Regions from separate parts of the Homo sapiens genome. Here all the other regions are reported to be linked to region 4. The links are microRNA targets in miRTarBase. Many come from high-throughput screens and were not tested one by one. Region 4 holds a microRNA gene; each other region holds the end of a gene's coding sequence.
Evidence for each region. The annotated mature microRNA hsa-miR-6752-3p reads UCCCUGCCCCCAUACUCCCAG and lies in region 4 at 1,872-1,892, opposite strand. An mRNA with a match to its seed (bases 2 to 7 or 8) in the 3' UTR can be bound and repressed. Matches are read on the target gene's strand: a 7mer-m8 pairs with bases 2 to 8, a 7mer-A1 pairs with bases 2 to 7 and ends in A, and an 8mer does both.

Region 1: miRTarBase lists TBC1D24 as a target of hsa-miR-6752-3p. Seed matches in the 3' UTR shown: 7mer-m8 at 3,279-3,285, 7mer-A1 at 1,313-1,319 and 7mer-m8 at 589-595.
Region 2: miRTarBase lists TMEM81 as a target of hsa-miR-6752-3p. The part of its 3' UTR that is shown has no 7-base or 8-base seed match.
Region 3: miRTarBase lists SLCO4C1 as a target of hsa-miR-6752-3p. Seed matches in the 3' UTR shown: 7mer-A1 at 1,244-1,250.

Annotation. Positions count from the first base shown.
Region 1 is chr16:2,500,341-2,504,340 of GRCh38, reverse strand. It overlaps TBC1D24 (TBC1 domain family member 24), which reads right to left. Exons shown (of 8, transcript NM_001199107.2): 7 at 3,851-4,000; 8 at 1-3,537. The coding sequence ends at 3,383. Among named protein-coding and RNA genes, the nearest start is that of ATP6V0C, 12 kb to the left of the region's middle. RefSeq lists an enhancer at 3,430-4,000.
Region 2 is chr1:205,079,796-205,083,795 of GRCh38, forward strand. TMEM81 (transmembrane protein 81) reads right to left here. Exons shown (of 1, transcript NM_203376.2): 1 at 3,334-4,000. The coding sequence ends at 3,758. Among named protein-coding and RNA genes, the nearest start is that of TMEM81, 2.7 kb to the right of the region's middle.
Region 3 is chr5:102,233,520-102,237,519 of GRCh38, forward strand. It overlaps SLCO4C1 (solute carrier organic anion transporter family member 4C1), which reads right to left. Exons shown (of 13, transcript NM_180991.5): 13 at 467-3,499. The coding sequence ends at 3,339. Among named protein-coding and RNA genes, the nearest start is that of SLCO4C1, 61 kb to the right of the region's middle.
Region 4 is chr11:67,487,994-67,492,186 of GRCh38, reverse strand. MIR6752 (microRNA 6752) reads right to left here and starts at 1,942; the gene lies at 1,872-1,942. AIP (AHR interacting HSP90 co-chaperone) reads right to left here. Exons shown (of 6, transcript NM_003977.4): 3 at 2,732-2,920; 4 at 1,973-2,149; 5 at 1,730-1,871; 6 at 1,084-1,399. The coding sequence ends at 1,194. PITPNM1 (phosphatidylinositol transfer protein membrane associated 1) reads left to right here. Exons shown (of 24, transcript NM_004910.3): 24 at 1-419. The coding sequence ends at 154.

The DNA of each region.
Region 1 (4,000 bases), not on the chromosome of region 4:
TTGGGGGAAGGTGAGGGTACATGGAAACCCTGTACCGTCTCTGCAACTCTTCTGCAAATCAAAAATTACTTCAAAATAAAAAGGTACACAACTAAATTACTAAATATAAACTACTCAAGGAGACTGCAAAGGCTTTATGGGTTCAGAAAGTGGATAAGAGAAATATGAAGGCCTCTGAAATCTTCAAAACGTTTTAAAACAAATTCCACTGAAAAACTCAAAAAATGAAGTATGCGGCTTACAAAAATAGAAAAATTAAAATACTTTAGTTCATTAAAACTCTGAAAAAATTCAAGTACAAATGACTTACTCTCATAAGTTCTTTTGCTTAAACTGATTTTCTGAAGCCCCAAAGGCATATAATCTGCTTTAATGAATTCATTTAATAAACTATTTTAAATTAGGTGCAATTGTTGTTTTAAAAATAAATGTTAAACATTTATTCAGCACAAAGTGGTCTATTCAAAAAAATTAAAAAATAGGCTAGGCGCGGTGGCTCACGCCTGTAATCCCAGCACTTTGGGAGGCTGAGGGGGGGGTGGATCACGAGGTCAGGAGTTCAAGACCAGCCTGACCAACACAGTGAAACCCTGCCTCTACTAAAAATACAAAAAAAATTTAGCTGGGCGTGGTGGCGTATGCCTGTAATCCCAGCTACTCAGGAGGCTGAGGCAGGAGAATCGCTTGAACCCAGGAGGCGGAGGTTGCAGTGAGCCAAGATCATGCCACTGCACTCCAGCCTGGGTGACTCTGTCCCAAAAAAAAAAAAAATCAAAAAATAATTCTTTGAATGTTTCTAAAAACAAATGATAATTTATTATGCAGTTTCAACAAATGTTGGCTTTTTTTTTTTTTAAACAAAGAATGGCTACTTCATAGGCAGAGCAGCCACTTTTGGCTAATTTTTAACATCCAAAGCTAATAAATAATCAAGAAGAAATAGAGAACATTAACAAAATAAATTATGTTCTATTTGGGAATACCTAATATCAGATACTAACAAGTACAGTGATAAGAATAAAAAAGATAATAATCACACATACCTTCTAGGTTAGTAGAAAAGTTAGGAAAAGATATTAAATTTAAAGAAACAATATTTTGCATGCACACAAAAAACAAAGAACTTCGCTCATGATGTGGAAATCATGACCCAGCAGCAATCCGTCTTCCTGGTCCAGATCACTGGAAGGCCCGGGTGGGGCCCCCTGGGGGCAGCCACGCAGAACCTGCTGGACTTAACTCGCCAGAAAAATCACCACCCAGTTCAGGAAGTTTGCAGAGGGAAACCTACAAATGGTCCACGGATATGACTTCCCTGCTCCTGGAGGGCTCCCTCTGGAAGAGGCTTGCAGCATTCCAGTCATAGAATGTGGGTGAGCACTACAGCGGGCAGCCTCCCACACCTGCTTGGCTGTAGGCCCAGGAAGCCCCCGGAGGCCCCTCTGGCTGAAGAGATCAGACTCAGCTTGGAGCCCTGGAGTTGATGCAGCAAGACCATGTTTAATGAACACCAAAGCTGGCGGTACAGATGAGGGCCTCAGGGGCTCAGGCGGGGGCCTGGAGGGCTGCGGTGGGCTGAGATGAGTGGCGACTTCCCTCCCATACCTCTCCCCGTGAGAGGGATTCACCCCATCCCCCTGCGAGCCTCTCAACAGTCCTGTGAGGAGGACAGCAGGGCATGGGGACTGGCCCCATTTCACAGCTGGGGAAACTGAGTTCCAGACGGGTTTGTCAGCTTGCCCAAAGCCACACAGGGTTCCCGGTCCTTCCTCCTGCACCACTGTGCGCCCAGTCAGAGGCTACATGAGCAGATGGTCAGGGGAGGCTAAAGCCCCATGGGAGGAGCAGGCAATGGTGTGGGGATGGAAAGTGGCACGGTGCAGGGGACTCCAAGTGGCACTGGCTGGAGGCCAGCAGGGACGGGGGTGGGGGCAGGACTGCTGGTACCTGCCTCTGTGACCCAGGCTTCCATGGTCCCAGAACAGCCACTTGGGCCTCTGTGTCTCCCTTCTCCCCTCCGTGGTGACCAGACCCTCAAGACGAGTTGAAGGAGGTCATGGGGCATGGAGGGAGGTCACAAGGCAGGGGGCTGCCCCCTATAGTGCCCAGAGGCAAGGCCTCCCCTGGCACCTACCTGCGTCTGGCCAGCGCAGGGCTCAGGCAGGGCAGGGGCCCAGGGGCCCAAAGGCTGTAAGGTGAGAGGCTCACAGAAAACCCTGACACGTGGCCAGCCACAGCACCACAAGAGGGACAGAGGGAGGACATGCATCCATGCAAGGTGGCCAAGGAGGTGCTGTGTGGCCAGGGCCAGGGGAGGGCACGGGGCCTGGTGCAGAGAAGCAGTTGGGGCTGCACTGAGATGAGCATGCCACAAAGAGGGGCTTGGGCGTGACCCTGGGCCCCAGGTCATTGCAATGACAAAGAGGTGAAATGGGCAGCTGCAGAGGCTACAGGAGCTCAAGGAGGCCTGGGCTGGAAGGGAGGGGAGCTGAGAAGCCCCCTGGGTCCAGGCTTCTCTGGGCAGACCCCTGGAAATGGAGCTTGCTGGTCTGGGTCGGTCCCTGAGGGCCTCTCCCGGGGCTACCTCTTCAGATGGGAACACGCAGGGAGGCCCAGCAAAAGCTTCAGGCTCTGCAGAAACACAAGGACATGTGACATCCCCCTCCAGCTCCCACCCTCCCTGGGGGTGGAGCCCAGCACAAATCCCACCCTCCTCCTCCCACCCAGCAGCTCCCAAACGCAGCCCAGGGGAGCCTCAGAGGCAGCCAAGAAGGGTTAATGTGAGAGGTGGCCCAGGAGGCCTGGGGAGGGAACTGGGGCAAACGCCCAGGACAGGGGGTGGGGTCCGCCAGGGGGCAGGCCCAAGGGTGCCAGTCTGTTCTCGGGATCTACGCTGGGATTCAGTCGCCAGCCAGCCAGGCTGCAGGGCCCTGCTCAGGAGGGCGCGATGCTATGCGGCACCAGCAGGGGGCACCACAGGCCCACCCTTAGCTGCACGTTCCCACTGCCGTTGTACTCCCACCCCAGGGGCTCAGGCTGCCTAGAGAGGCTCAGGGGCAGCAAGACCCAGACACTCCCAAGGCCTTGGGCTATGGAAGCCTCCACGGAGGAGGAAGGTACTTCCTATGCCAGCTCTGGGTGGGGCTGGGGGCACAGCAGGCCCTCCAGCTCTGACCCAGATGCAGGTGGACTGGGGAAGCCCAGCCCAAACCCCAGGTAGAGGCAGCAGCAGGTCCAGGCAACGCCAGGCTTGGCCATGGGGTCCTGCCGTCCCCCAACCCTGCCTACCACATGGGGGTTTCATCTGCTCTCTGCTGCCCGAGGCGGCAGCCCAGCCTCGGCCCACCGCCCCACCACGGCTCAGTCACCGTGGCACAGGCCGTCACTGGGTGTCAGGGTCCTGGAAGCCCCAGGCCTCCACGGCAGCAATGAGGAAGTTCTCGGAGCAGAGGGGCTGGTTGTTGAAGGTGTCGCAGTGGCTTGTGCGGCCCCGGTTCAGGTCCCCATCGATGTAGAGCGCCTGGCCGCCTCCTCCCCCTGCAGGATGCTCAGGTCAGTGGCGGCCTGACTGCCCTATCAGCACTGACCCAGGCACCTCACCTGCTGTCCCAGCTGTCCTGCCCTGCACGGGCCTCTCTGAAACCGCACAGACCGTTGACCCTCCATAGCCCCCAGGACCAGCTGTCCAGGCTGGTCTCTCCCTTCCAGCCCCCTCCCACCCATCATGCCTGGTCCACCCTGACACCCAGGGCCTCTTCTCTGCCACCCCGGTCAGGGAGGGCTGGGTGCAGCAGCTTCAGCTGCCCGGACCCCACACCCTCATCCCAGAGCCCCGTCTGCTGGCGCTCACCGACGATGAGGCAGTCGCTGCCCCCCGCCATGAACATGGACTCGGTCTTGGAGGGCAGGTTGAAGTGGCGAGCGGCCAGGAAGGGCGAGAGGCGGTCAGCGGGGTCTGAGGAGGCGGAGTGGCTGAGTGGGGCGGTGGGCTCGGCAGCCA
Region 2 (4,000 bases), not on the chromosome of region 4:
CCTTAGCCATATATCAGAACCACCTAACAACCTTAAACAACAAAGATGCTCTGAACTCATGATATACATCTAGGACACTGAGACAGCCTAGGAGCAATGACTCCCCAGTAGCAATGAGCACACCCAACATGCAAACCTTGGTTTCTCAATGCTACTCCCCACACTAAGAGGAACCAGGGTTCCTTGGGGAAAGACCAGATTCAGGTTTGGGGCAAGGAGAGTCCAAATGTGAATCTGAGATACCGTGTTGTACTAGAAGCAAGAAAATGCTCAATGTCAAATAAAACCACAGCAAAAGGGCAAAAGAGCTTGCCTGAGGGGACTCCTACTGGCCAAAATTGGGGACAATTTGAACATCAAGATAATGATCATTTGTACACCAAACCCCCATGACATGCAATTTACCTATGCAACAATCCTGCACATGTACCCCTAAACCTAAAAAGTTAAAAAAAAGATAAAATGATAATGGATTATATATAGCTCACTGAATAAGAAGAATCTATTGAGACCTCAAAAATAAAGAGGGTAAAAAGAGTAAGCTCTTCTTTACAGAGAAATGCAGGCTAATATAGGTAAGATGAACATAAAGAATTGCCAGTTTGCAGTCCCCAACATGTAATGTTCAACAAGGCAAAAACAATGGATGCCAAAATATGTGAAGAGTTTTTGGAGAGCCATATAATCATAAAGTATTACCCCACAGACTATGAATTACAAAGGGGAAAATACACACACACACACACACACACACACACACACACACATTGGTGGTGAGATCTGGCCATCCACCACCTTAACCAAATGATCAAGCTTATTATCAATAGTGGGTCAACCTTGGCTGGGCGCGGTGGCTCACGCTTGTAATCCCAACATTTTGACAGGCCGAGGTGGGCGGATCACCTGAGGTCAAGAGTTTGAGACCAGCCTGGCCAACATGGTGAAACCCCATCTATAGGCGTGGTGGCACATGCCTATAGTCCCAGCTACTCAGGAGGCTGAGGCATCAGAATCACTTGAACCCGGGAGGCAGAGGTTACAGTGAGCCGAGATTGCACCACTGCACTCTAGTCTGGATGATACAGTAAGACTCCATCTCAAAAAACAAAAACATAAACAAAAACATGAGCCTTGTAATGTGGTGCAGTTAAGTACATATCTACATAGGGCTCTTGTCAAAAATGTTTAAGATTCATTCCTCATGAATCTACTCATGAGGAAATGGCAAATACAAATTATGGAATCTTATCTAAGACAACTGGAGTAAATTATTCAACGAAATCAATGTCATGAAAGACAAAGGAATGCAGGAGGTCTGTTGTAAAAGAAGATACTTAAGAGAAACATAACACATGAACTTCTATTTGATCCTGGATCAAAAATGAAATTAAAAAGCTGTTAAGATTTTGGATATTGAGAAGTGAATACAGGCTGAGTATCCCTTATCCAAAATGTTTGGGACCAGACATGTTCCAGATTTCAGACTTTTTCAGATTTTGGCATCTTTGCATTATACTTATAGGTTAAGCATCCCAAATCCAAGAAATCCGAAATCTAAGCTCTTCCAATAAGCATTTCCTTTGAGCACCATGTTGGTACTCAAAAAGTTTCAAGTTTTGGAGCATTACAGATTTCAGGTTTTCATACTTGGGATGCTCAACTTGTATAAACTATATAAGATTAAGAAATTGTTAAATTTTGGCCAGGTCCAGTGGTTCACACCTGTAATCCCAGCACTTTGGGAGGCCGAGGCAGGTGGATCATCTGAGGTCAGGAGTTTGACCAGGCTGGCCAACATGGCGAAACCCCGTCTCTACTAAAAATACAAAAAAATTAGCCAGGCATGGTGGCAGGCACCTGTAATCCCAGCTACTCAGGAGGCTGAGGCAGGAAAATCACTTGAACCTAGGAGGCAGAGGTTACAGTGAGCTGAGATCACACCATTGCACTCCAGCCTGGGCTACAAGAACAAAACTCCGTCTCAAAAAAAAAAAAGAAAAGAAAGAAATTGTTAATTTTTTGTTGTTGTTTTTGAGACAGAGTCTTGCACTGTCGCCCAGGCTGGAGTGCAGTGGCGCAATCTCAGCTCACTGCAAGCTCCGCCTCCTGGGTTCACACTATTCTCCTGCCTCAGCCTCCCGAGTAGCTGGGACTACAGGCGCCCGCTACCACACCAGGCTGATTTTTGGTACTTTCAGTAGAGACGGGGTTTCACCGTGTTAGCCGGGATGGTCTCGATCTCCTGACTTCGTGATCTGCCCGCCTCGTCCTCCCAAAGTGCTGGGATTACAGGCGTGAGCCACCGCGCCTGGCCAGAAATTGTTAATTTTCTTAGTGTGATAAAGATATTGTGGTTACAGAGAACATCCTTATTAGGAGATGCATACATGGTTTAAGAGTTAAGAGTTGCAATGTCTGTGACTAGCTTTCAAATGGTTTAACAAAATCAATCTATATTGAGAAAGATAATTGTGACAAAATGTTAATTCCTGGTGAATTTTGGTAAAGGTTCTATGCATGGTCACCAAACATTTCTTTCAGCTTTTCTATGGGTTTGAAATTTTTACAAGTTAAAAGTAAAATAAATAATAGAGATCCTTTGACCATAATTTAAACTGAATTAGCATTGTCAGGATTAGAGCTCAAGAACCTTTATTTTTCACAAGGTCATCCAGATGATTCTAACACACATCTAGAGAATCGCTGGTCTTTGGTTTCTGCTACCTCCTGTAGTCAGAGAAAAGTGAGAGGAAGAAATGTTGTAATTCTCTCAGTAGAATTAGCTCAGCTGGTGGCCAAGAGTCTTTCCCTGATGGTTCCACAAGCCAATTATCTCAGACACGGTCCGAATGGCCTCGGAGTCTTAAGACTGGATTTCCTATGGAGGAATCAAAGTACTAATCCTCCTTTGGGGGCCTTGGCTGCTGTAAGAAACCAATACTTGACCCTCCCAGGAATAGAAGCTTCAGGGCACTGAAAGAGCTAAAAGGACTGGAGTGGAGGCAAGCCAAGGTGCTGTCTGAATGGTAAGAGGAAACCTACCAGGTGAAGGATCTAGTGTTTTGCCAAGAAATTCAATTTAATACCAAACAGGGGATTTACCTGGGCAGAACAGGCAATTTGTTAATATTTAGTGACTGTTACACACCTGAGTTGGATGTCATTACTAACAACCCCTGCCATAGGCTTATGCACTGCACCCCCTGCCCCCAAAAGCAGACAATTGGTTTAATGTCTATTCTAAGAAACCTGAGGAAAATGAAGCCAGACTGATTATGGGACAATTTAAATAAATACAAGAAACTGAAGAGCAGAAAAAGGTCTCCATACAGCTACTGTGAATTACTTTTATTGAAAAAAAATGTTCACTAAAAAGGCTGAATACATCCCTCTACATGAATACACAGCTCAGAAGAGGGGAAATGGAGGTGGGGAGGCATCCAAGTCATAAAGGGTAGAAAATGAATGCAAGCTTCTTAGAACTCTTCCCAGGAACACAGGCAATGCTTGCAGTTTCCTGGGTACCCAATGGGCAGGGAAGATCAGGAAGAGATCCATGGGACATAAGGAAGTTAGGTTACTGCGCATAGCTCCCAGGAGATTGTCCCCTCCATTTCTCCCACTCATTCTTTTGGCTGTGGGAGTGTTCCCTCTAAGCTGATCCACTACCAGCAGCTGGAACACTCCCCTAAAAAGCTAGCTTGGCTTCCTGGGCAGCCAGTTCTTCAGGAGCAAGGCTGTTAAGTTCTTGAAGCTGTCACTGCTGCAGGCCCCCCCTTAGCGCACAGAGGACAATCCTCACCAACACGCCACCAACCACTCCAATGGCAATTCCTATTCCCAAGGCTGACGCCACCTTCTTTTTCCACTTTGGGTGGTGAGGCTTGGAGTAGCTGTCCAGATTAACTTCCAATCCCTCATCTATTAACTTCTGATCCTCAGTAAGTGACTGATGGAAATTCAGATTCACCAAGTTAGGAGGAAGGACCCTCAACCCAAA
Region 3 (4,000 bases), not on the chromosome of region 4:
GCTGTAAAAGTTAGTGTTTATTGGACTTTACTGAAAAAAAAGCTGAAGGAGCCTGGGGGAAAAGAACATTACATTTCAAATTAACATCTAATATTATTTCCTTAAAATATTTTACTATTACAATAAACTGAGATAAATTAAACACATCCCACACTTTTTTATCAGATAGTTTACAAATAAACCATCTGTAAAATGTATCCTACTTATATAAATCTTATATATTAATCTGTCATATGTAGAAACTTGTGTAAGAGAATTTCCCTAATATATATTTCATAATACATGTGGTTTGTATTGAATTAAAAACATCTGTTGAGATACAAGAAATCACTGGATTAAATTATTAATACATTCACCAAGTTCAAAAGCATACTAATTTCCCTTTCCCATCCATAAAATATGCTTATGTTCACAGAGATAAGGCAAGTTTCAAACCTGTGTCATTTAATAAGCTCAAACACGACAATTTTGTATAAACATTCTGATTTAATAAATGGTATGAATATATATTTTGCATACTTTACAATAAAGAAAATTTTGAAAGAAAATGGATCTAAAACTTTGTTTCCCTCCAATTTACATAGTAAAGTCAACTGCATACAGTTCTTTCCATGTGTAAGTTTTACATTTGTATTTTCTACAATTAAGTAAATCTAAATGTTAAATTTTAACACATATATCCAATTATGTACACAATTACAATGTCAATTTATAAGTCAAGCTTACTTAACAATCATAAATTACAAAAAACGCACTATGAATAATTTTGTTCTAGAAGTATCACATCAACTCATATGATCTAGGTGAACCCAAAAGTAAAAAATAATGATTATAAATTATGGTAGTGTCTGTAAAACCCTGTTATAAAGGAGGTATTCTTTTAAAATATGTACCTTATATATAAAAGCTCCTGACTCCTTTTAAGGACCAAAATTATTTTCAGTCTAACCATTTTCATTAAAGCGCTTATTTAAAAAGTATCACCTTATAAAACTGAGTATATAAAATACAATGCAGCCCTTGATAGCTAAGAATCTTTATAAACGCCAATGATTTAGTGACCTGTTTATCAAACTATTTCTATGGATGGGTTGATTTTTTTTCTTCCTCTAAATTAAGTGGCCCTAGACTAATATATTTGTTCAGTTATTCTGTTTTCTTCCTTACTGCCATTTCACATCTCCATCAGTGAGTTCCTCAGGATTTGCCTTTATGTTACAACTATGAAAGTCTTCAATCCAATTCCCTGCTTCCACACAAAGGACAAAGAAAGCCTAAACTTTCCTTTTCCTTTTTTCTGGGCTCCAATAGGAAGCAGCATTTACAACGTGTCTGGCTTGGTGGGAGGAAGATTGTCAATTGAGGTATCATGTGTGTTCACCTGCCTCTCTTGCCCTATTTCTTTGGTTGCTATAAATTTCCTGCTTCTCAAATATCTGGATTTTTGGCTACCTATTTGGCTTCCGTCTTTGGTGTTTATATCTGTCTGGTTTTAGCAGGTCTCTCTGATTCCTGACCCACAGCTCCTCTCCTTCTCTAATATTCAAGTATGCTGCTTCCCTAACTCCTCATTCCTTCTCCTTGAATTTCACTTTACAATTGCGCTAGGTTCTAACATCGTTGGCCATAGATTACCACAAAACATAATTTCTTAAATTCTGCAAATTTCTAATGTTTCTAATCTTGGTTTCCTACAAGATCTAACACTAAGCTTGTGTTATCCTGATTACAGTGTATATAAAACAATGCTTGTGGAAAATTAACCTAGGAGAAAGCTTATAGGGGAAACCTGATGATGAATTTTATTAAATTAATAACCCTTATAACAATTTCAAATGTAATACTATCTGGATTTGAACTTCAATACTTTTCCTAAGTAAAATTCTTAACCATGGTAGAAGTTATGTTTGTTGATGTTCACTCATCTATACCCTCCATATTCTCAGCAAAGTTGGCATAAATCTGACCTGAATAAACAGGGTTATAACATTATCAGGCTTGTAAAATACTTTATCAAATCAATGCATCAGTTAAAGCAGGGGTCCCCAGCCCTGGGCTGTGTGTGGCCTGTTAGGAATCGGGCCACACAGTTGGTGAGCTGAGAGGCAGGTGAGTGAGCATTACTGCCTGAGCTCCACCTCTTGTTAGATCAGTAGTGGCATTAGATTCTCATAGGAGTGCACACTCCATTGGGAACTGCACATGCAAGGGATCTAGGTTGCACTCTCCTTATGAGAATCTAACTAATGCCTGATGGTCTGAGGTGGAGCAGTTTCATCTCAAAACCATACCTTCTTCCCCCATGGAAAAATTGTCTTCCACAAAAATGGTCCCTGATGCAAAAAAGGTTGGGGACTGCTGAGTTAAAGGGTAGGGTTTAATATTCTAATTAAACAATAATAATAGATGACTACACTATGCAAGGCACTGTCTTAGGTGCTATGAGTAATGTGTTAAGTGGTTGGCTTTTCAAATAGGAAAAATTAAAGGTATATAAGTATTGATCAATAGTTTCATGTTTAGTTGGCATTTTTCTTTACTGACTGGTACTTTCCTCTGAAATATATGCAATTGAATAATATTATCACAGAATCATAAATGTGTTAAAAATTGTAATATCAACAAATTACCTCCTGGAATTCTTGAGTTAAAGTGAAAATATGTGTATACAATGCTGATGTTTCTGTATTCACTATATACTAAGACACAAGGATGATAACTAACATATTCTAATAGTTCAATAATTTGCTTGGAGAAAGGCCAGGCTAGTATACATAAATTTAAAAACAAATTACATGGTAAACCTGGTTTTAAATTCATAGGCTTTCAATAATAATTCCCGGAAATCATCACACAACTTTGATTAGTTTAAATTTTTATACCATAAATGTTCTAAGCTCAAAATATTGACAATGAAAATTAAAATTAAACAAGTTGTAATGGGGATAGAAACAACATTTTTTTTAAATGTAAATTTTTCTAATTGTGGGCCTTTTTTCTTGTTATTGCTTGAGGATTTCATACCTAGACAATGGGAATAGGAAATAAGTGTGTATGTGTGCGTGTGTGTGTGTGTGTGTGTGTTCGTGTGTGTGTGTGTGTGTGTGCTCGTGTGTGTGTGTGCTGTGTTTTGAGGCTTTACGTGGGCTTTGAAGGCACAGGTCTGTTTCTTGCATAAAACAAAAACTACATAAGTAAAAAAATACATTTGATTATAAAAACATCAATTTTGTAAATATGATTGTCCATATTGGATAGATAATCCTGCCATGGCAATGTGTGTTCTTAAAAATCGAGGTAAATTTTCCAGGTGTAAAACAGTCTTCTCTTTTCCCATTTCACCCTTCTTTTACTATTTTGTTGAGATCCTGTTCTGCTAAAACATTAGTCACAACTGCATTCTCTTTATGAAATGACACATCTGTGGCTGATGGAGGTGGTTTATACAAAAAGATTGCAAATCCATTGAAGAACATGGTGATAACTTTACAAGTAACACCTAAGTGAAAAAAAAAATTAATCATGTGCTTTTGTTTTTAATTATGATAAAAATTATCACTGAGAAAAATCTTCATGAATAGAACATTTTTAAAGAGAATAATTACATAACCATTATAGTTCTATGTTTAAAATTTTTGAAACATTAAGGGGAAAGAAAAAACATTTGTATACAATTCAAGTCACTAGTACTTATTTTCTTTCTAAGCTGTAATAGAGCACAATAATTAACTTATTCTTGGTTATGCTTGTGCATTCTTGTAAAATAAGTGTTGTATAGAACTAAATAGGAATTGGGCCACCATCTAGATTTGTTAACACAAGCCCATAATCCCAGTACTTTGGGAAGCTGAGAGAGGTGGATGTCTTGAGTCCAAGAGTTCGAGACCAGGCTGGGCACCATAGGAAACCCTGTCTCTACCAAAAAAAAAAAGTGCAAAATATATTCAGGTATGATGGATGGTACAGCCTGCAGTCCCAGCTACTTGGGATGCTGACGTGA
Region 4 (4,193 bases):
GGCTGCCCCCGTGGACTTCCTGCGCAAACAGAGCCAGCTGCTTCGCTCGAGGGGCCCCAGCCAGGCGGAGCGTGAGGGCCCGGGAACACCACCCACCACCCTGGCACGGGGCAAAGCACGGAGCATCAGCCTGAAGCTGGACAGCGAGGAGTGAGGCCCACACCAGCCTGGACCTGGGTTATTTATTGACACACCCAAGGGGCCCGAGGGGCTGCGTGTGGGAGGCTGGGGACCCAGACTTTTGGCCCCAGCGCTGGCCCCCCCAGCCCCACACCCTATATCTCCGTGTGCTCCTCGGTGTTACTTCCCTTTCATATGAGGGGACCCAGCGCCGGGGGGAGGGAGGAGGGCGTGGGCATGGGCGCAGAGGCTTTTCCAGTGTGTATAAATCCATGAAAATAAACGCCACCTGCACCCCACCCACTCACCCCATGCCTGGCATCACAGGGCAGCCAGCCCAGTTTCCAGTTCAACAGGGGACACTGATGTGCACAGAGAGGCCAACACACACCCAGGGCCATCCAGCTCACAGGCAGGGTCAGGATGGGGGCCTGGGCCTCAAAAGGTCGCACGAAACCCACGCCCAGGGCCATCCATGTCACAGGCAGGTCAGGATGGGGGCCTGGGCCTCAAAAGGTCTCACGAAGCGCTCGGCCCTCTCCTCTTTCTGGACAGTCAGCCCACCCCAGCCCAACCCGGCTCACCTCAGCCCCAGCGTAGCTTCTCATGGAAACCCTGCCCCCAGACACCGAGGCCAGGAGACCATGGGATCCGAGGCTGGAGTGGGAGGGCAGCACCAGGAGACTACCTCCCTCAGGTGCCCAGCTACCTAGCTTGTACCCACTTCATCTCCCCCTTAAGACTGTGGGCTCCTGGGGCGCCCCAGCCCTGGCCAGCGAGAGACACTTCCTTGGTGAAAGAGCTCATCGTAATTTCTCTAACAGGGACACCAGAGCCTCAGAGCTGGTGGGTGGAGGGGCTAGGATTTGAACCCTGATTCTTTGCCTCCCAACAGCCACCCAAGTACCAGGAATGCCAGGTGATGACCCGGCTCTCCCAGTGGAGCAGCTCAGCAGACTCAGAGAGAGATAAATAAAGGCCTTTATATACACAGAAGCATGACGCAGCACGGGCAGGGGGGCTGGCAGCTGCAGCAGTGGGCTTGGCAGGTAAGGCAGGGCCAAGTGCTCCTGTCAATGGGAGAAGATCCCCCGGAACCGGGCTTTGTCCTCTTCGTCCTTCTGCCGGATCCGTGCCTCCAGGGCCCGCAGCTCTCGGCTCACCACAGGCGCCAGGGCTGGGTCCAGCTCCAGCACTTTGGCAAAGTCAGCCTGGGCCTCCTGGGCATTCCACACGGCCGCGTGGGCCTTGCCCCGCTTGAAGTAGGCCTTGACGTTGTCTGCAGGGGAGGCCAGTGGGCAGTGGGCATGCAAGGGCATGAGGGGGGATCCTGGCCAGCTGCCTGCCCTCATGTCTCCTGGCACCATGGGCCCACAGGGGAGAGAGAGCCCTCCCTGACCTGAGGATGCCACCCCACCCCCAATACACCATTCATGCTTCATTGGCACAATGGGGCCCACAGCCCTGCCGAGTAGAGGCATTTAGTCAGGCCCCCGTGGGAGCTCAGAATGGGGGTTGTGAAAGGCTAGGTCTTGACCCCAGCAGTGACAGGAGAAAGGCCACTCTCTGACCACTCGCAGCCCCCGGCAGCCCAGGGCCCGGTGCTCACCGTCGTACTTGTTGAGGATGGAAGAGCAGTGGTCCAGCACCTCGTAGTACTCCTCGACCACCAGCTTGCACTGGCAGTAGTTGAGCAGCAGCGGCGTGATCTGCTGGTCCAGCTGGATCCATTCAGGGGACCCAGGCTGTTCCTGGGAGTATGGGGGCAGGGAGCGGGGAGAAGCTGTAGACCTGGGCCCCCTGGCTCCACACCCCCCTCCATCCATCCTCCCCCTCAGCCTCCAGGCAGTACCTTCATCTGCAGGTTCTTGAGGCAGGCAATGGCATCGTAGTACTTGGCAGCAGCCTCCTTCACATGCCCCTCGCGGTACAACCGGTTGCCCTCCTGGTGGATAAGTGGCACTGCCTTTGCCTTCTCTTCGTCTGTCATGGCCCATGGGTCCTGCTGGTACGTGCCAGGGCTCTCCACCTGCAGGGCATGGGGCATATCACAGCGGGGCTCGGGGACACCACAGCTGCGTCCGTCAGCAGCAGACCTGACCCACATCTGGGCTGGCTGGGCCCCCAGACATCACACACCAGCAGCAGAGCTACTTGTCACTCAAAAAGCATCAAACATCGATGTCACATCTCCTGTGTGCCCAGCACTGTGCCAAGTGCTAAGAATAGAACAGTGAACAAGACGGTGAAAAGCCCTGCCCTCGCAGAGATCATGCTGCATGGCAGGTTCCCTAAATGGACAAGGAAATCCATGAATTCCAAGGGACTTCAAGGTGCGGCAGAGGCTATAAAGGAAATGAGCTGCTGCGAGACAGAGAATGAGGAGACCGGGTGGGCAGGGCCGGTTTCCTGGAGGAGGTGACATTTGAGATGTGAAGGAGGAGGAAAGGAGACCCAGGGTACTGCCAAGGGTCCTGCACAGGTTTTCTTGTCTCTGTCCGCTCCCCCAGCAGTCCACCTGCGGATCCCACCACCCCTGGGTGGACAGGCCAGCGCCGCCCTGAGGCTGGGCAGTGGGGGCCTGGTGAGACCAGGCGCGGTGGCCCCTCACCTTCAGCATCTCCATGTGGAAGATGAGGGGCTGGGGGTTCTGCTGCAGGGCGTCCAGGTCAGCATGGCCCAGGGAGCTGTGTTCACGCATCTGTGCAACACCGCAGCAGTGCCGCTGGCCCTCCAGGGGGTCCTTGCCCACCGCGATGTTGCGGAGACTCTTGGCCACCAGCGGGTACAGGACCACATGCTGCGGGAAGGCAAGGGCGCCGGGGGCTCTGTCACCGTGGGCTGGCTGGTCACCGGGTCCACAAGGCCCAGCCCCCTTCCCCACCACCATCTGAGAACAAACACCAAGGCCCAGAGAGTGACAACTGGGACCCTACTCCGTTTAAGCACAGGAGGCTTTTAATTCAGGACTCCTCCAGTCGCTCAGCCCTCTCTCCTGGTGAAGCCCCAGCTTCTGCCACATTCTCTGGCCACCAAACAGAGCACCTAACCCCCTCCTCACCCCCACCACAGACACATGCCTACCATCAACCCCTGTCTCCCTGGTCCTTACAGGCCCAGTAGAATTCTTACCTCCTCTCCCTCCAGAGGATAAGGCCCTTTGCTGGACTATGCAAAGAACTGGGGCCCCCCACATTCTGTTCCCAGCAGCTCCTCCTTCTGCCCCACCCACACCCCACTGAGGGCCTACCTCAGAGCTGGGCCCAGGCCAGCCACTTCAAAACCCTCAGGGAGGCCGGATGTGGTGGCTCACGCCTGTAATCCTAGCACTTCGGGAGGCCAAGGCGGGCGGATCACCTGAGGTCAGGAGTTCAAGACCAGCCTGACCAACATGGTGAAACCGCGTCTCTGCTAAAATACAAAAATGAGCCGGGCACGATGGCAGGTGCCTGTAATCCCAGCTACTCAGGCAGCTAAGGCAGAGAATCAGCTGAACCCAGGAGATGGTGGTTGCAGTGAGCCAAGATCACGCCACTGCACTCCAGCCTGGGCAACAGAGTGAGACTTAGTCAAAAAAAAAAAAACCCCACAGGGAGACAGGCATAGGGGACCTAGCCTCTAATCTCTTGCTTGGCAAAGCTGCTAGGCTGGTGGGAACCAGATAACCAGATTCCTCCTACCCGGGTCCTCCCCACTCCTCCCACTGCCCTGTTGTCTGGACAGGGGCTGACTGCCGGGCTGCCATCAGCGGGCATTTCCTGAGTCTTGGCTCTGGACTGGCTCGCGCTGGGCATCCCAAAGCTAGAAGTAAACAGGCCAGATCCCTGCTCTGCAATAGCCTAGGACAAGGCAGAAGAGCAGATCCTGGCCATGCAGGGCATGAGGGTTGGAGGACCCAAACATGGGAGTTGAGCCAACCACTAGCAGTCAGGGAGGGCTTCCTAGAGGTGGTGACCCAGGAATAAGCTTTGAAGGAAGAGGGAAGATCTTGGCTAAGAAGGGGAATGGAAAGGAAAAGCAGGGAGGTTGAGTAAGAGGGTGAGACGGCAGGGGCCAGCCCCCAAAAAGCTATG